3 linked regions of the Homo sapiens genome follow. The protein of the gene in region 3 interacts with the protein of the main gene of each other region in a biochemical or structural test. Each region holds a gene or a part of one and is shown on either strand. Other genes may lie near its edges.

The links.
Region 1: the proteins of MAPK7 (region 3) and PML form a complex in vitro, tested with the Homo sapiens proteins (2 studies listed by BioGRID and IntAct, with this or other methods).
Region 2: the proteins of MAPK7 (region 3) and MEF2C form a complex in vitro, tested with the Homo sapiens proteins (one study listed by BioGRID).

The regions. Positions count from the first base shown.
Region 1 is NC_000015.10:74,039,716-74,046,715, forward strand, and holds part of PML (protein PML), read left to right. Parts: intron 1-3,273; coding exon 3,274-3,424; coding exon of another isoform or gene 3,425-3,465; exon of another isoform or gene 3,466-3,623; intron 3,624-4,505; coding exon 4,506-5,293; 3' UTR 5,294-7,000.
Region 2 is NC_000005.10:88,880,185-88,887,644, reverse strand, and holds the start of MEF2C (myocyte-specific enhancer factor 2C), read left to right. Parts: upstream 1-4,460; 5' UTR 4,461-4,690; intron 4,691-6,622; exon of another isoform or gene 6,623-6,721; intron 6,722-7,460. UniProt on the Homo sapiens protein: Transcription activator which binds specifically to the MEF2 element present in the regulatory regions of many muscle-specific genes. Controls cardiac morphogenesis and myogenesis, and is also involved in vascular development.
Region 3 is NC_000017.11:19,379,208-19,384,044, forward strand, and holds the end of MAPK7 (mitogen-activated protein kinase 7), read left to right. Parts: intron 1-574; coding exon 575-740; intron 741-1,276; coding exon of another isoform or gene 1,277-1,294; intron 1,295-1,400; coding exon 1,401-2,479; intron 2,480-2,573; coding exon 2,574-3,259; intron 3,260-3,605; coding exon 3,606-3,739; coding exon of another isoform or gene 3,740-3,743; intron 3,744-3,870; coding exon 3,871-4,024; 3' UTR 4,025-4,337; downstream 4,338-4,837. UniProt on the Homo sapiens protein: Plays a role in various cellular processes such as proliferation, differentiation and cell survival. The upstream activator of MAPK7 is the MAPK kinase MAP2K5.

The sequences.
Region 1 (7,000 bases), on a different chromosome or scaffold from region 3:
TGCCTAACCAAAGTCAAGAACCACTGAATCGGGGGATTCATTGCATGTCTGTGGTAGAGGAATGCTGCTCATTTGTTTATAGATGTGGCAGTCTTGAATGCAGGTGACATTTTCATACCAGGGTGTAATACCGCAGAGGAGGGGAGAGGCTGGATCTTCCCTGATGTACCTCCTGGACTTTTGGAGTGTGATTACAATGCCAATCCAGCCACTTCCTCTGAGCATGCTTGGGACGACTGTTAGACCTGCTGTGTTGAGTTAGAATGCACTTGACCTGCTCAGGCCGTGAAATCTATGAGGAAGGGGAGTGAGATGGATGTAGCTCATGAGCCAGATTGCAGGTGTATCCAAGTTGCATGTATATCCTGAAAAAATCCTGGCTCTCACGAGGCTCAGCCTGAACACAGTTTTGCATTCAAAGAAACAATGTCCATTAACCAAGTATAATAAAGAAATAAATCCCAGTATTTACTTGCATCTTTTGAAAGAACATTAAAGGGAATCCAGCTCATAACCCCAGCAGCACTTCTTCAGTCCTTCTTCCCCTTTTCTTTGGCGCCTGGCATCTCTCACTGCATAGCAAAGCTTTCCCCCTTGATTCCCGGTCCTCACACGCAGGCTCAAGGCTCTGTTTCCCATCTTCTTTCTTCTGTCCCCCTTCCTTTTCTCTTCCAAGCAAATCTAAGTCTTTTCCAGTGACTGTCCCTCTCTATGCTCCCCCGACACCCAGTTATCCTAATTTGCGGAATAAGGCCAAGGTGTGGGGCCTGGGGGCAGAATGGGAGAGTCTCCCCTAGTGAGCAGGGAGGGGAGTATGTTCTGCACCAGGCCACTATGTCTGATGGCCCTGCTGGCAAACCTGAGTCTTTCAGAAAGTCTTGTTTAAATGCGTCAGCACTCCCCAGCTGTGATGCTGGAGTTTAAGGCGGAGCAGGGGAGAATTCTGGGTTTACAGCTGGCTGGAGTTCCAGTGAGACCAGCTCCATGGGTGGCCATACTTTATGGAAGTCCCCAAGGGCAAGAGGAATTTTGGAGGAAGTGAGTCAGGGCTGAAAGGTCCAGCCTCTCCTCCATTAACAAGCTTGGTGGAAAGGGGGTGTCCTTTTATTAAAGGAGACAGTAGAGGTTTCTTAGAGAAGGCAGCTCGAGTAAGTTTAGGACAAAGGACATTTCCCTGGCCCCGGGACAATGGAAGGCTCTAAAAACGAGGTTCTAGTGGCTGCCATAAATGACCCTGCTGTAACGATGGGAGGGGTGGCCTAAAGAGACAGTACTGTGGCTCTCCAGGGAGCTCTCCTCTTGGAAGAGCAGATCTGAAGGCGGGAAGACTGGTTCTAAGGCCGAGGACATTGCCCCGAGCTTTGTGGAGGCACTCAGGAACACAAAGGGGCATTTCCAGTTGGGTTTGGAGCAGGAAGAAGAACGAAAAAGAGAAAGTCCTGTGTGCCATGTCAGTGGGTGGCAGCATGGACTCAGCCTCAGCTATTGGCACCAAGGATCTGAACCAGGGAGGACCCAGAAGGGGAGCCCAGCCCCTCCACCAGCTTGTGGGAGAGCGCTGCTGCCCAGTGAAGCCTGGAGAGAGGAAACAACTGGATTCTCCCAAAGCGGGAGAAGGTGGAGTCTCCAGCCACCCAGCTACAAGCTAGGAAGACGCCTTGTAGAAGGCTCCTTACAGGGAGGAAACCGAGTTGGAAAGGCGAGACAGCAGTGTGGGCTCACCCGGAGCAAGACGTGTGAAATCAGCTTTTGACAGCGTGGCTGAATGAGGATCTGGAGATGCGAGGCGCTGGGCAGACTCTCTGACTAGATCCCTGGATATGAAGAGGCAAAGCCAGCTCTAGATGGATTCATAGTGAGTGTCTGCTTCTGACAATAACTGGCAGAAAGCTGATGAGCCTGGAGCAGGGCTGTGAAATGCAAATCCAGTGAAATCCAGCCACTCCTACAAAAACCCACCACATCTTAGGTTACTTGTGGGTGGAAACGCTTTTTCTCTCAGTTGAAGCTTGGTTGGAAGCAGATGTTTCACTTGGGCATTGGAAGGGTCTGGGGAAATGTGCTGCCTCCTAGGCCAGGGACATTAGCCAGAGGCCAGAATTAACTGAGGCTTTAGCACCAGGTGACACCAACTTCATTGAGAAGCCAGCGGCAGTCCATAAAGAGGAAAAACCCAAGGCCTGCCCTGGACTCTGTCCCAGCCATGCTCCCAATTGGCCCTGTGATCCTGTCCATGTCTCTTCCTTGCTGGTCTCTGGCTAACGTCCACAGGTGGCATTCATGGGAGGTTCCAAGTTGGTCATCAAAGACTAAACATCTGGGCTTGGCAGCTGAGCAGATGATAAGCAATTAACTCTGTATTACCATCAGAGGCTCCACCTCCCTCTGTAGTCCCAGTCCCTTGGGAAAATCTCAGAGCTGGAGCCCTTCCCTCATCCTCTGGCTCCCCACCCCATGGCTTCTCGAACAGTGTTCCCACCAGGACCTTGGGACAGGAGAGAACGCCTCACCTGAAGGACTCCCAAAACTCAGGTTTCTCTAAGCTGCTGGGGCAGATGCCAAGAGCCTCCACTGCTCTCTCACTGCCAAGGACCTGGGTGTCCACCTAGATGTGGCCTTCAGGAGGCCAAGCAGTCCTTCCCCTCGCCTTTGTGTAGGACACTGGCACCTCGGCTGACTTCGGGGACAAGAAAAGGCAGGCTCCCGACCCCTTCCAAAGAATCATCTGGGGTTCAAGATGAGGCTTCTTTCTCCCGTCCCAAGTTTTGGTGTTTCTTCTGAGTCTGCTCAGAAAGATGAAATTAGGAGCAGACATCTCAGGTCCTGCCTGCCATAGCAGATGGCTCCTTCCCTGAGCCTCCATAAGCAGCACAGCACACTCATGCACACACCCACTGGCATTTTCTCTCACACTTTCATACACTTGTGTCAACGCAGGTTCACAGCTCACACTTAACTGTGCATGCACACACAGATTTAGCACTTGGATTCATTCCCACACATGCACGTTCACAACCTGTGTGTGTCACCCTTCCTCCCCTACTCATGAGGGTGTATGCCCTGGTTCATACATGTAACCCTCACATGTGACACACCCAGTTCACACCCATTCATGCACACATACCTTCTCTTGTGCACACGTCCCCTTTCCCAGTGGTACACCCTCCTTCATGTGCACGCAGATGCTCCCAGCTATACCAGCTTGCTAGTGTTCTGCACAGGTGCTTGCCTTGGCCCTCTGAATCCCTGACGCTTGGTTTTTCTGTGTTGCAGTCCTCCCGAGAGCTGGATGACAGCAGCAGTGAGTCCAGTGACCTCCAGCTGGAAGGCCCCAGCACCCTCAGGGTCCTGGACGAGAACCTTGCTGACCCCCAAGCAGAAGACAGACCTCTGGTTTTCTTTGACCTCAAGATTGACAATGAAAGTGGGTTCTCCTGGGGCTACCCCCACCCCTTTCTAATTTAGTCTCTGAGTCCCAAAAAGAAGTGCAGGCAGAGCCATCTGCCAGGCCCAGGAGAGCTCTGAGCTCTGGCCAACAACTGCAGCCAGGCTGGGCAGAGCACTCCGGCTCACCTGGGCTCCTGGCGTGTCATTTGCTGGCTTGAATAAAGATGTCCGCCTTATCCAGTGCCTGAGTGTGCGAGAGAGGCAGATGCCTCCACAAGTGCACCTCTGACCAGTTCTTCTCTCAGACAGAGAGCCTGGGGAACACACTCCTAGACAGAAACACAATGCGTGAGCTCATTGCCGTGAGCCCTGTCATCCAAGTAAGGCCTCTGGCTGTGCTACACGTTTCTGAGTAGAGGGCCAATCCCACAGGTGGCTGCACAGGGCTGCCCACAGATCCAAGGTCACAGAGGGATCAGACCCCTTATCCTGGAAGCCCCTCTACTTCCTCCAGTGCTTGCCCTGGCTCTGCAAATGCCCCTCCTTGAGCCAGAGCCCCAGGCCCTACCCTGTGGCATGGACTCAACATTGGGGCTAGCCCAGCCAGACAGAAACAGCAAGTGTTTTCATGGTACAGAAAAGTCATTTGCAGACCTCAGTGGGAGGCTCTTGGCCTTGCTCTGAGTGGAGTGCTTTCTATGTCCCAGGGCTCTGACTGGGCTGGGGTCCTTGAGGGGATTGGAGGAAGGAGCATGGGATGGAGAGCTAAGTTCAAGCAGCCTGGGATCTCTAGTATAGGTGGCTGAGGCTGATAGAAGACAGGAGGGACCTGTATCCATGGGGTTTGGCCAACTCTGGGGCCGGTAGTGGAGGAGGGGAGAGCTGGATCCCCAGCTGGTGAACAAAGTGTTTGGAGGGCAGCCGAGCCTCCCCTTCTGACTGCTATCCCACCACAACCAGGATCAGAGCTGCATTTGGGGGCTGATGTGTGGCTACTGCCAGCAGACCCCAAGGTGAGGTCTCTAGATGGTGAGTCAGCAGCCCTAGAGGACCCCCTGCTCCCACCCCAGAGCTCTCTGTGACCCTGGGTCCTCACCCTGCCCTTCTCTCCTGCCCAGCCCAGAAGATTAGCCAGCTGGCTGCGGTGAACCGGGAAAGCAAGTTCCGCGTGGTCATCCAGCCTGAAGCCTTCTTCAGCATCTACTCCAAGGCCGTGTCCCTGGAGGTGGGGCTGCAGCACTTCCTCAGCTTTCTGAGCTCCATGCGCCGCCCTATCTTGGCCTGCTACAAGCTGTGGGGGCCTGGCCTCCCAAACTTCTTCCGGGCCCTGGAGGACATTAACAGGCTGTGGGAATTCCAGGAGGCCATCTCGGGCTTCCTGGCTGCCCTGCCTCTCATCCGGGAGCGTGTGCCCGGGGCCAGCAGCTTCAAACTCAAGAACCTGGCCCAGACCTACCTGGCGAGAAACATGAGCGAGCGCAGCGCCATGGCTGCCGTGCTGGCCATGCGTGACCTGTGCCGCCTCCTCGAGGTCTCCCCGGGCCCCCAGCTGGCCCAGCATGTCTACCCCTTCAGTAGCCTGCAGTGCTTTGCCTCCCTGCAGCCCCTGGTGCAGGCAGCTGTGCTGCCCCGGGCTGAGGCCCGCCTCCTGGCCCTACACAACGTGAGCTTCATGGAGCTGCTGAGTGCACACCGCCGTGACCGGCAGGGGGGCCTGAAGAAGTACAGCCGCTATCTAAGCCTGCAGACCACCACGTTGCCCCCTGCCCAGCCTGCTTTCAACCTGCAGGCTCTGGGCACCTACTTTGAAGGCCTGTTGGAGGGTCCGGCGCTGGCACGGGCAGAAGGAGTCTCCACCCCACTTGCTGGCCGTGGCTTGGCAGAGAGGGCCTCCCAGCAGAGCTGAGAGGAGGGGGTGACCAGCTTGGAGTCTCTGGTGGGCAGAGAGGGATGGGGTCCCTGAGCCAGGCCCCACCCATCACAGCATTCCCAGGTCCTGGTACCCAGCCCTCAGTTGTCATTTGGTTCAGAATCAGTTCCCTTTCTCTGGGACCAAATTTCCCTTCTCTAAACATCCTACAGAGAAGGTTCCAAAGCTGAGCACCCATCACCCTAGGTGTGCACCAGACTCCTATTAGCCCCTCCTTCCAGGAGCTAGAACCAGGGAGGTCCTGAGTGAGGAAGGCATGACCTCTGGGCTCTCTAGGTGGCCCTGGTCTTGCCCCATCCATCCCACCTGCCACTACCTTGGGTGTCCTTACAGCTCTGCCCTGACCCCAGCCCCTGCCCCTGGACACCTGCTGACAGCTCCCACACAGAACAGTCTGAGGTGATGCTGGCTACAGCCCTGGCAGCCCATGGCAACTCAAAGTGCCTTCCAAACCAAACTGCCCCTCATGAGGTTAGGGTCCCCCACCCTCCACCTGCCCAGAGGCCAACTCTGTTCCCTTCTCCTTTCATCCCAGAGGGGCCTCATCAGCAAAGACAGAAACTGATGTTCCATGCATGTCCCTGCTTCCAAAGCCTGACCTTCCAAAGCTTGCTTCCTTCCTCCTGGCTGCACAGACACCTCTGCTTGGCCACAGCTTTGCTCTTTGGTCCTCAGGCCACCAGACCCCTCACAGCATGGCCCTTGGCTCTTCCTGCACTGCCCTCACCCTCAGCCGTCCCAAGGAGTGCCCAGCACTACTCAGCATGTAGTCCAGGACCTGCGGCATCAGCATCCCCTGGGAGCTTCTTAGAAATGCAGACCTGTGGGCTCTACCACAGGCCTCTGGAATCAGAATCTTCAGGGTGGGGCCCAGCAGTCTGTGTTTTAACAGGTTCTCCCGGTGATGCTGGTGCATGCTCAAGTTTGAGAACCGCTGCTCTCATAGACTGCTCCTCCAAGGGGAAGCAGTGTGGAACAGCAGAGAAAGTCCCGTCCCTATCTCTGACTGTGCAGTGAGTGTGGCCTAGGAACAGGTCCCTTCCTAAGCTCTAGTGTCCCCATCTGTAAAATGGGCTGATTGGCCTCCACGGTCAGAGCGGCCATCTGGCTGTGCCATCCTGCATTTTTAGGAATGGAAAGCAGGCCTCTGAGGCAGTGGACAGGAAGACTTCTCATCCTTGAATTCTAGCTCCCATTCCAAACTGTTAGTCCCCAACCTTGTGGTCACATCAGAGGTCAACAGCAGAACAGAGGCAGGTCAGGGTTGTCCGCTCTGATTAGCAGAACGACAGCCCCTTCCTCCTCCTCCCTCCTTCCCATCCCTACTCATTAGCTCCCTGCTCCTGGGATGCTTCCCAAGCAGCCCAGGCCTCTAGCCTCCATGGCTGATGACCTCAGCTTTCACACTGGTGAAGTCTGTGTACCCATACTGCAGCCCCATCCCATGGGGCCCCTGAAGACCCACTGAGGAATTCCGTAGGGTCTTGTTCCCACGACCGGAGTGCTGGCTCTCACAGTGAATTTTGATGCATTTAAAATAAGATTCTGATGCCAGACTGTTAAAACAGGCGCTGGTTCTGAAGCACCGATGGAAACAGATTGATGCAGATGGAAGGAGGAAGGGAGACTGGGCCCACTGATTTCCAGCCCCACCATGTGTGCTGTTTTCAGATGTGATTGAGG
Region 2 (7,460 bases), on a different chromosome or scaffold from region 3:
GCATTAACAAAATACTATATACTGTTTTGCACTTCCACATTTGAAGGTGCCAAAGAAGAGTTGCAAACTGTGAAGTAACTTCTATGAAGAGATGAAGTAAAGAACGGAAGGCAAATGATTGTGGCAGTAAAGAAGTGTATGTGGTGAGTGCTCACATTTGTTTTTATCATTTACCACAGAGTTACCATAAAGGTAAAACTGCCAAACTCCTTGGCCTTAGGTATTTACAGAATAGACGTGTATAACAATAATAAAGAGTTAAATGACCACCATACACTTTATATTATAAGCAATGACATATCATTTTGCTTAAAGATCATGTCATCTTTCAGGGCCTACTTTTGCAAGTACTGTATCTTATAAAATTAATCTATTTCATGGGAAGTCCTGTGTATCATCAATACTATAATTAGACAAAGATTAAAATATGTAATGCTATTGGAATTTGTGTTTCACTGCTTTTTAGATTTTTCTAAACCACCATGTTCACTTATCATGTTTGTGTTAAAAGTATTCTGGCTGAGGAACAAATACTATACAGTTGAATAATCTTAAGGGGTACATTAATCTATAGCCTTTCTTCATCTCAGGGTGGGTTGCTGTGGCAACCGCCCCAGTTCACTTTAAAATAATTTTTAAAGCTCACTTCAAGAGCTACACCCAGCGTGGGCCAGGCTTAAAAGCAGGCAGACCCAGTGCACAGGGCTTTAGTGGACCGCTGCTTTAATGTAGGGAAGTAGTGAAGAGAGGAGGTTGGAGTAAGATGGTATGCAGCTCTGAACAGAAATTGCAATATTAGCTTTCCCTGGAGTTAAAATCCCGAGGAGCATGCTCTCTGTAACTTCTATGACACTTTAATTAAATATATTGCTAAACATAATTCTTTTGAGGGAAAAACAAGTGACTCTATATTTACATTAACAATAAAGCATTTACAACTTAATGTAGGAGAAATATTTGGTGATTAGAAAAAAATAAAAGCTGGTACAGTAGTACATCAATCCCAGACATAATTTTCTTTTAAAGGAATTGTCACCTATTATTTAACTGGATAGACCCTACCTTCCAATTGGTTTAAAGGGTAGAAACATTTTCTGTTTTCCAATGATAGAACTGGAATAGGTTACAGAACTCATTTAACACATAAGCGAACTGAAGCCTAGAAAGGACAAATCCCTTAGTAAGGCACAAATTTTGAACTAGATAGAGAATCCAGGTCTCCTGACACCTAGTACAAGCTCCTCCCTACATGAGAAAATAGTCTGATCCTAACCAAGTATCATTAGATGGCAAGGATCAGGATGATTTTAAAGAAAAAACAAAAACAGAAACAGAAACCAAAAGTCCAGAAGTATTTAAAGAATACAAAGCACACTCTGGATTAACTACTTTGTGGATTACTCATGAATAATTTTAAATCTCAGGTGATTTTCTAATGTATATTTCTTCATATCTCTTCTGCTTCAACTGTAAAGGCTCATGGGAAGAAAACTAATGGTAATATTAACTTAGGTCACACATAATTAAGAAGCTAAATCTGCTGAGGGGAAAATCCTGTATTTTAAAAGGCCAACTGTGATACATTCCAGATCCAAATTATTTTCAAATTATCCAGTGTGGGGTTATACTTATTTTTGAATGCTTGCAGTATCATTAATAATTATGGGTTTGTTATAATGGGTATTATTAAATAATTATTTAAAATATGAAAAGGTAAAATAAAATAATTTCTTTTTGAAAGAACATCTAAAACTGAAGTGTACTGTGGTAAACAGAAATACCCTCTATAATTCATTAAAAACAGCAGGGCTGAAATTCATGTATTGGCTATGTGTTTGCTCATGTCAAATAGACTGTTGTAACTCACTGCATTAATTTTAGGTATTATGGCAATAAACTTAGATGGTCCTTCAAATGCTTTGCTTTTTCAGGACCTTCGTGAATCTTGAAGAAAATTAATTTTATTTTTACCACCATATATAGACATATCTTAGTATTCGAAATATCTTTGCCCTTTAAATTTTTGGATTTTCAGAGAAGTTGTACTTTGAATGGAAACCTGATACAGATGTTCTCTGCCATATTATTAAAATGAATTCATGGTAATGGCAAACTCAACATTTGAAAAACCGGCAAACAAAATACATTGTAAATACTAATCTGCAAGAAATACTACTATTTCAGATGGTTTTTGCTTTGTGACAGTTTGTGATGCATTCCTATAATAAAAGGGAGGGAATGGTCTTAGTTTTGCTGATAGTCACAATGATGAGCTGGAACTTGAAGATTGTTCAGATCTAGTTGTACTTGCCTATAAAATAAACCTTCCCCTTTCAAGTGAAGCCTTGGGACAGTTGCCTAAATGTTGAGGCCACTCTTCTGAGAGAAGCTACTCACATCAAATACCTCCTACATTGAAGCAGGAGGCTTTTTGAACCATACTGTCCTCATATATTAAAATAGTCATCTGGAGGCATATTGCTGAACTTAACAGGAAATACAACTAGTCATTGGGTTAAACGTAGTGCTAAAAGGAATTTTCTAAAGTGAGGAAATCTTTAGTTAGCTAGATATTTCAATATACTATTGTCTAATCTCATATATTCCATGTTCTATTAATTTTCCCTTCTTGCTTTCACAATATTTTTTAAAAAATAGTTTGGTTTAAACATTTTATGTAATCTATAATTCTACTGGCATGCAATCTTGTCTTTTCATGATTCTATACTAGTTGATGTATTTTATCTTTGGCTTTATTGGGCATGGTATATATTAACAGTTGGTTAGGGCGGGAGGTGCCCAATCTCTAGTAGCCTAAATATTAAAGCCTTTTTTTTTTTTTTTTGTAAGGAAAAGTGTTTATCATGCTTTAACCTTAACATAAGTATCCTCCCTTATCAGTCTCTATTTCTGCTTCCTGTGCAGCTGAAACTCTTCAGGATAAGTGAAGTCATCAGCTATCGGCTAGGGTAGCCTAATGCATTTGGGAAGTTGGTTTGGTTTACATGTTAATGACCTGGATGAAGTCCAGTAAGGTGTGGAAAAGATAGAGTGGGGGGAGGGGGGGAACTCCGAGGAAGCTGCTTCCTCGGTAAATATTTCCAAACTGATTAGAAAGTTCATGGCCCCGCGATGAAGTCGAGATCTCAAATACTGGTAATTATTTTATTATTTCGTACATTACTAACATTAGAGAAACCTTTCGGCTCGCTTTCTAGCGCTCCAACCTCTCAGGGTGAAAACCGCGACTTCTGGGCGTGCAGGAAAAGCACGCTGGAATCGAGTGCTGCAGACATCCTGGACCGTGGTTTTTACGCGTGAGTAACGGAGGAGCGCACCGACCGGTGGAAGAGAGAAGTGGCTAACGCGTGTCCAAAAGGGGGAAAAGTCACAAGAGCAACTATTAGGGTCGCGCTCCTATTGGTCAGAGGAAAGATCCCGACTTTAGAAGGACTTTCCTGCTGGCTGGCTCGCAGCGTCCCCGGAGAGCAAGCGAGCGCGCCGCAGCGGGAGACTAGGTTCTCTCCGAGCGTCCTCCGCAGAGGCGCCGCGAGAGGAGCAGGGAGCCGCAGCTCGCCGTGTTGTCTTCATTTCGTGCAATAAAGAATTGTCATTAGGTTTGCGTATGGCATGTGCTATTACCCCACCGTAAAACTAAAATTAGCAAAATGTCAGGAATGGAAAGATTGATTCACCAAGATGCAATTATCATTTAAAAGTGCTTGATTGAGGTACTGATGTTCAGTGATTTATTCTGCATACCATATACATAATTAAAGTAGTGTAGTGGAGTAATTTATCAATCTAGTTGAGACTGGAGGGGTGAGGAGGGAGCTGCTGTATGTTTGTTTTATTAAAATGCTCCGAGGTCTAGTCCCGCCCCCCTTTTGCAAGAGTGAAACTGATGATTTCTCCAGCTCGCGAGGAAAGAGTCAACGGTTTGGGATTGTGGGGGAGAGAGAGACGGAGAGAAAAAGGCAGCGCGAAGCAAAGGCAAGGACAAAATTAAATAAAGGGGGAAAAAAGGAGGCAAAAGACATTTCATCGGACGTGCTGCTTAGAACCCCAACCATTCGTGCTCCGTCTTCCCTACCACCCCCGCCTCCCCTCCCAGTATCCTTCAATCCCCCCCGCCCCCACCACCCCCAGTCTTTTTTACGCGATGTTTCAAACGCTGTGAGCTGTTCTCCTTTTCCCATTCGTCTTCTGTCACTTCCTTCCTGGACGCAGTTTTCTGGACGAGTCTGGTTACTTTTAATCCGACCGGCCGCTGAGAGCCACTTTCTCCTCCTCCTCCTCCTCCTCCTTCTCTTCCTCCTCCTTCTTCCTCCTCCTCCTCCTCTTCCGAGCGGCCTCGGCGCGCGCGAATGCGCGGCCCCGCGCCCCCCCCCTCGCGCGCGCTCCCCTCGCGCGCGCGCACACACGCACACATCGTCTCCAGCTCTCTGCTCGCTCTGCTCGCAGTCACAGACACTTGAGCACACGCGTACACCCAGACATCTTCGGGCTGCTATTGGATTGACTTTGAAGGTTCTGTGTGGGTCGCCGTGGCTGCATGTTTGAATCAGGTGGAGAAGCACTTCAACGCTGGACGAAGTAAAGATTATTGTTGTTATTTTTTTTTTCTCTCTCTCTCTCTCTTAAGAAAGGAAAATATCCCAAGGACTAATCTGATCGGGTCTTCCTTCATGTAAGTACCCCTGATATTTCTCGAGGAAATAGAAAACCCGGGTATTGTCTCTAAAATCTGCATCAATATATTCCACGGCACTGTGTCTATCTATCCCTGTGCCTTTTTTGAAGGCTGAAGTTGAGGCTCGTTGTGCATTCTTTTTCGTTAGATTCCATGATTTCCTTGTTTGTTGCTAAAAGTAACTTTTTAGATAGTCGTATCCGTTTGCCATCAGCTATTGAAATCACTCCTGACTCGTTCCTGTCACACCAGTGTATTTAAAGTTTCATGAAGTTAGTTCACGTCATTAGCATGTTTGATATGGTGGAGCGTGTGGAGCCTGGTGGATTTTAATATTTCACAGCATGTTCTGTGACCTTGAAGTAGACGCCTTAAGATTTAGCAGTTAGTTCACTGTGGAAAGATGCTCCCATGAGTCCCCCCAAAGACACTGATTTGCCCTGGGTTATGCTTCTGAGCCACTAATTCTTGGGATTAGTTTGACCTAAAGCATGGCTGTCTGTCAGAGTATACCTTTGTGCATTTCCTTCCCTCACCAAAGTGCCGGCTTGACAGAGGGCTTCTTAATTGGTGTGGACAAAAAGTAATATCCCTGCCATAGTAGTCTACACATTTCACAATTCACGTTCGATTTCAGCATATGGATTGCTGTTCAGGTCAAGTCAAATACATAGCTGTTTAAAAGCAAGCAAGGTTAAGTCACTTAAATTGCCTTCTCTTTGGACTTGGAATGAAAGTTACCAAACTCGATGATAAAGTTTGTCACAAAGGAAGTATATATAGATGTGGCACATTGTTTATTTTATTATTAAATATTGTGGAAGTATTTAAATTTAATGCTAATGTTACCTTCCTTCCCTGAACATGGCTATTGCTTTTTAAAGGAAATTTTATATCTGAATCACTTCTGACTATTCTAAGTCCAGTAGTTATCATTCTTTGGGGAGAGCCTTTTTTTGTCACATTTTAGGAATGCGTGTCTTTTGTATAAAATACTTTATATGTAAATGCTGACAGTAGACTAAGTAGAATTGGGCTCTCTGCCAGTTCCTTAACCGGTCCTCAGTGGAGAATTGCTTTGACACAAAGTGCGTTTTACTATTGTGAATCTGAAACTAACTCTAATAGTAACTGTCTTATGAAATGCTTGGGGACTGCATATAATTTCTAAGTGCTATAAAGGAAACTCCAGCCACCTCATTATACCAGTCCAAAAAAAAAAAAAGCGACTAGCCTACTTTCACTGGCACCTTGCAATGGAATTGTGGTTGCAGAGTAAAGATGTTTATGTGGAGTATAATAACTCCAATCCCTAGAGACTTGGTAGGACATGGAAATGTGACCACCTGTGAACCCCGTTTAACCTCGTATTGCATACCAATTTTAGCTTTAAATAGATCAACAATCTCTAATTTGAAACTAAAACATCTTATTTAATTTTAAAAAATGTCAGTTTTGGCTAGTCTTTAAAAACATTCAGCATGTACCAATATGGTATAAGCAGTATTTTTGTTTCTCCATCAGTTTCAACTAAAGATAATGCAGTTAAAAAGCCATATTATTGTCTTCCAGTGTATGCATGAAATTAAGTTAAAAGAAGTAGTTCTAAAGCAAGACTCAGAACTTGATAGGTAAAATGAGATGTCCCTATCTAACATCCTATTTCAAGAGGAAAGAAATATTTTAAATCAAATATCTCATTCTATTTGTAGAAAAGTACATTTAGCTATGTATTCTGCTACTAACTCAATTCTAAAAGTTTTCATCAAAACAGTCTTTAAACATAACATTTGCTTAAAATTTGGTTCTCCCGTCAAAGAGACAGTAGGTGGCTGTTACCTTTACTTCAAATTTTACTAAATTTTATAAAAACCTACTATTTTTATTAATATAATTCACACAGCATTCGAATGTTTGACTTTTTTTCAGACTTCTTAGGAAAGGCAGCATTTTACTTCATTCATTAATTGCACCATTTACGTCCTGATTGCTGTGCATGTGGAATATATTGAAAGATAATATTAAAGTGTAAGTTTTATTAAATGTTAATTTGTTTTTTATTTCAATAACAAATGAGCAATTTATAATAAAAACAGTTTTCCACCTTTTCTGAGCTATTCATATTTTAAAAGTGTGCAATCACAGATATTAACTTTTCAAGAGAGAAGCACATTAATACTAGATAACTCCATGAAACTTAGATAACAAGAGGCACTTTGCCTCTTTTCTTCTTTGTAAACATGTTCATTTTGAAAAATTTGGGGGAAAAGATACCTGAAATTTTTTCCTTGGCCCTAACTTAACGGAATCAATAAATTCCATAACACTGCAAACGTATCTTTCTAATAAATACTTTATTTAAACTTCTTTTATAAAGAACAGCACTGAATAACTCCTTAGCATATCTTAACATTATCTTTTAAAACTTTCTTCTGTTTATTGTAGTATATTTTGTGGTTTTATTTCTCAACTCTAAAGTGTGGTATAATTTGAGTCTATGAAATCTCAGAAAGTGACAAAAATGGGGAAATAGCTGTGCAGCAATACTTGTGCTACATAACAACAAAGACATAGTTATTAAACAGAATTCTGGCTTTGGGGACATGATTCGAAGCAACATAGAAGAATTTAATATGCAATTAATGGTCACAAGATGAACTGTTAAGAGATTATTAATAAAGTTACACTTTTTTTTCAAAAGCACATCCTCTGAGAAAATACCACACAAATTAATATCTAAAACTTATCAAAATACACGTATTCATTC
Region 3 (4,837 bases):
CGGGAAGGAAAGCGGGGTGCGAGTTCTGGCTCCAGTCAACACACACTGACCAGGGCCTTCTGCCTGCCAGGCTCCGGGGAGGCTCGGTTCTCTGAAACTCCGGCCTGGTGGTTTTGCCATCCTGCCTGCCTACTTCCTCCTTAGGAAAATGATAGTCCCAGTTAGACCAGAATGGAGAGCCAGTCCTTCGTGTCTAAGAGAGAAATGTGTTCTGGAGCCAGACACTGGCATAAGGAACTGGTGGTGGGATGGGTGAGGTCTGAGATGGAGAGGGTGTAGGCATAAGAGGCTGAGCTACACCACTGGGCATCCGTGCAACCTCCAACAAGTTACTAAGCCATATTTCCTTCTCTTTAACGTTGACCTATTGGGACCTGCCCCGCAGGGGAGTTGTGAAGGTAACATTTAATAATGTAGGTAACATGCTTAGCACAGGGCTTGGCACATAGTAGGTACCCAATACTTGGTAGCTGTTGTCATTTGCATCCTAGAAGGGAGGTGTTGATAGGGGCTGAGTCGACTCTGCAGTTTCTCCAAGGTATCCTCTGGTATGTCCCTTTTCCCTGCTCCTCAGGCCAGCAGGTGGCCATCAAGAAGATCCCTAATGCTTTCGATGTGGTGACCAATGCCAAGCGGACCCTCAGGGAGCTGAAGATCCTCAAGCACTTTAAACACGACAACATCATCGCCATCAAGGACATCCTGAGGCCCACCGTGCCCTATGGCGAATTCAAATCTGTGTAAGAAGCGGGATGGGAGAGGGAGCCAGACTTGGGACTTTTCTGAAGGCTGCAACCATGTTGCCGAAGTTCTGGAAAGGCAGCTGAATCTAATCTGAAGCAGGCTGGGAAAATTCCCGCAGTTCTAGGACCAGTTCTTTAGAGTTTTGCCAGGGACAACTGTTATTCCTCAAGAAGTGTACAGATGATTTTACAGTTTTATAGAATCTTAGTATATAGGATGTCAAATGTAGGACATTCCTACTATGACCACACCCTCCTATTCCCATAGCAGACTTCACTAATCAATCACAGAACACTTTCCTACAGACAGTGGACAAGCCTGGTCAATTTTCATCATAGTTCTTCAAGCTGCCACTACCAAACAATGGAGATAGCCCCAAAAGGAAACCTATTGGCCAGCCCTGGTGTAGTCCAACCCCATCTTTTATCTGATGGGGAAACTAGGTCTGGAGACAAAAGTGATTTAACCAAGTTCATGGAAAAGTCGTAGAGAATCTAAAACGTGATGCTCTTCTTCCATACCATGCCGTCAGCCCCTATGGGGTCCCAGGGTAAGGCTGTTACCTGTCTGGAATCGGAAGGGTGTGGTGAGGATGGGGCTTGTCCCTGGAGTGTGATCAGGCCAACCCATGCTTCTCTCCTTCCTTCCCCTTCCAGCTACGTGGTCCTGGACCTGATGGAAAGCGACCTGCACCAGATCATCCACTCCTCACAGCCCCTCACACTGGAACACGTGCGCTACTTCCTGTACCAACTGCTGCGGGGCCTGAAGTACATGCACTCGGCTCAGGTCATCCACCGTGACCTGAAGCCCTCCAACCTATTGGTGAATGAGAACTGTGAGCTCAAGATTGGTGACTTTGGTATGGCTCGTGGCCTGTGCACCTCGCCCGCTGAACATCAGTACTTCATGACTGAGTATGTGGCCACGCGCTGGTACCGTGCGCCCGAGCTCATGCTCTCTTTGCATGAGTATACACAGGCTATTGACCTCTGGTCTGTGGGCTGCATCTTTGGTGAGATGCTGGCCCGGCGCCAGCTCTTCCCAGGCAAAAACTATGTACACCAGCTACAGCTCATCATGATGGTGCTGGGTACCCCATCACCAGCCGTGATTCAGGCTGTGGGGGCTGAGAGGGTGCGGGCCTATATCCAGAGCTTGCCACCACGCCAGCCTGTGCCCTGGGAGACAGTGTACCCAGGTGCCGACCGCCAGGCCCTATCACTGCTGGGTCGCATGCTGCGTTTTGAGCCCAGCGCTCGCATCTCAGCAGCTGCTGCCCTTCGCCACCCTTTCCTGGCCAAGTACCATGATCCTGATGATGAGCCTGACTGTGCCCCGCCCTTTGACTTTGCCTTTGACCGCGAAGCCCTCACTCGGGAGCGCATTAAGGAGGCCATTGTGGCTGAAATTGAGGACTTCCATGCAAGGCGTGAGGGCATCCGCCAACAGATCCGCTTCCAGCCTTCTCTACAGCCTGTGGCTAGTGAGCCTGGCTGTCCAGATGTTGAAATGCCCAGTCCCTGGGCTCCCAGTGGGGACTGTGCCATGGAGTCTCCACCACCAGCCCCGCCACCATGCCCCGGCCCTGCACCTGACACCATTGATCTGACCCTGCAGCCACCTCCACCAGTCAGTGAGCCTGCCCCACCAAAGAAAGATGGTGCCATCTCAGACAATACTAAGGCTGCCCTTAAAGCTGCCCTGCTCAAGTCTTTGAGGAGCCGGCTCAGAGGTGCCTTGTGGGCAGGTCGGGTGGGCAGAGGGGAGACTTGGACTTGGACAAGGCTTCAGGCTTTTACCTTCTCCCCTGCCCAACTTCCCCGCAGATGGCCCCAGCGCACCCCTGGAGGCTCCTGAGCCTCGGAAGCCGGTGACAGCCCAGGAGCGCCAGCGGGAGCGGGAGGAGAAGCGGCGGAGGCGGCAAGAACGAGCCAAGGAGCGGGAGAAACGGCGGCAGGAGCGGGAGCGAAAGGAACGGGGGGCTGGGGCCTCTGGGGGCCCCTCCACTGACCCCTTGGCTGGACTAGTGCTCAGTGACAATGACAGAAGCCTGTTGGAACGCTGGACTCGAATGGCCCGGCCCGCAGCCCCAGCCCTCACCTCTGTGCCGGCCCCTGCCCCAGCGCCAACGCCAACCCCAACCCCAGTCCAACCTACCAGTCCTCCTCCTGGCCCTGTAGCCCAGCCCACTGGCCCGCAACCACAATCTGCGGGCTCTACCTCTGGCCCTGTACCCCAGCCTGCCTGCCCACCCCCTGGCCCTGCACCCCACCCCACTGGCCCTCCTGGGCCCATCCCTGTCCCCGCGCCACCCCAGATTGCCACCTCCACCAGCCTCCTGGCTGCCCAGTCACTTGTGCCACCCCCTGGGCTGCCTGGCTCCAGCACCCCAGGAGTTTTGCCTTACTTCCCACCTGGCCTGCCGCCCCCAGACGCCGGGGGAGCCCCTCAGTCTTCCATGTCAGAGTCACCTGATGTCAACCTTGTGACCCAGCAGCTATCTAAGTCACAGGTGAGAGGGAGGCCCAGGCCATGGGGACACCTGGGTCTGGGCCAAAGGAAAATGGGTTCAGGAAGCGGTCAGTGTTCCACAAAAACTGAGCAGCAGATGGGGCTTTATCTCTGAACGTGTCCTCTTGCTCACAGAAGGAGCATAATGGCAATGAAGAGGTTGTTAGGAGACAAGTTAAATATGGCCTGCAAAGTGCCTAGCCCAGAGATGGGGCCAGCCAGCACTCACTGACTGCCGAGACTGGTGTTAGCACTCCCAGATATCCAGGCGGAGTAGTCAGCAGCATTGGGACAGGGTGGCCTACAGACCTCAGTCTGTCTGCATTGTAACCTGTCATTCCCTGCAGGTGGAGGACCCCCTGCCCCCTGTGTTCTCAGGCACACCAAAGGGCAGTGGGGCTGGCTACGGTGTTGGCTTTGACCTGGAGGAATTCTTAAACCAGTCTTTCGACATGGGCGTGGCTGATGGGCCACAGGATGGGTAAGGTGGCTGGACTGAGCTCCTAGACTGGGACTGTGGGGAGAGGTTCCTGGTGCAGGAGACATGCACCTGTGGGATGGGTGAGGGTCCAGCCTAGGCTAATAGCACCCCTCCCTTTCCTTCCCCTGCAGCCAGGCAGATTCAGCCTCTCTCTCAGCCTCCCTGCTTGCTGACTGGCTCGAAGGCCATGGCATGAACCCTGCCGATATTGAGTCCCTGCAGCGTGAGATCCAGATGGACTCCCCAATGCTGCTGGCTGACCTGCCTGACCTCCAGGACCCCTGAGGCCCCCAGCCTGTGCCTTGCTGCCACAGTAGACCTAGTTCCAGGATCCATGGGAGCATTCTCAAAGGCTTTAGCCCTGGACCCAGCAGGTGAGGCTCGGCTTGGATTATTCTGCAGGTTCATCTCAGACCCACCTTTCAGCCTTAAGCAGCCACCTGAGCCACCACCGAGCCATGGCAGGATCGGGAGACCCCAACTCCCCCTGAACAATCCTTTTCAGTATTATATTTTTATTATTATTATGTTATTATTACACTGTCTTTTTGCCATCAAAATGAGGCCTGTGAAATACAAGGTTCCCTTCTGCACCTGACTCCAGGTGTAATTTTTGGAGTTCGGGGTAGGACACCATCAGCAGGGGAGCAAGGAGGAGCCAGGTGCCTACATTTGGGGGATAAACAAATATGTTTGTGTGTATGAAGCCAGTTCATTCAGGTTCTGAAGGTTTATTGAGACCTTCAGTCCCTACCCACTCCCAGCCCTGCAGAGATTGTCCTCTGCTCCCTCATGTGGCTAAACCTCTCAACACCCAGAGGGTATGGGGAAGACCTCATATGCATGCCTACCTTGGCTGTGGCTGTTTCAGGGTGGTGTGCGGTAGCTGTGTTCTTGGCATAGAGCTTCAGGGGCTGGGATGGGCCATCAGGGGAAGCTGAGTATGATAGTGAGGTGGGCTGGGGTTCCACGGTACTCACCACAGGGGAGTAAGTTGGTGGGAGGGATGCTGAAGATGGGACATGGTTTGAGAGCAGCCCAGAGGAGTGCTGGGCTGTGGCCTAGAATACACCATGGGCCCTGTTCACACTGCACTGC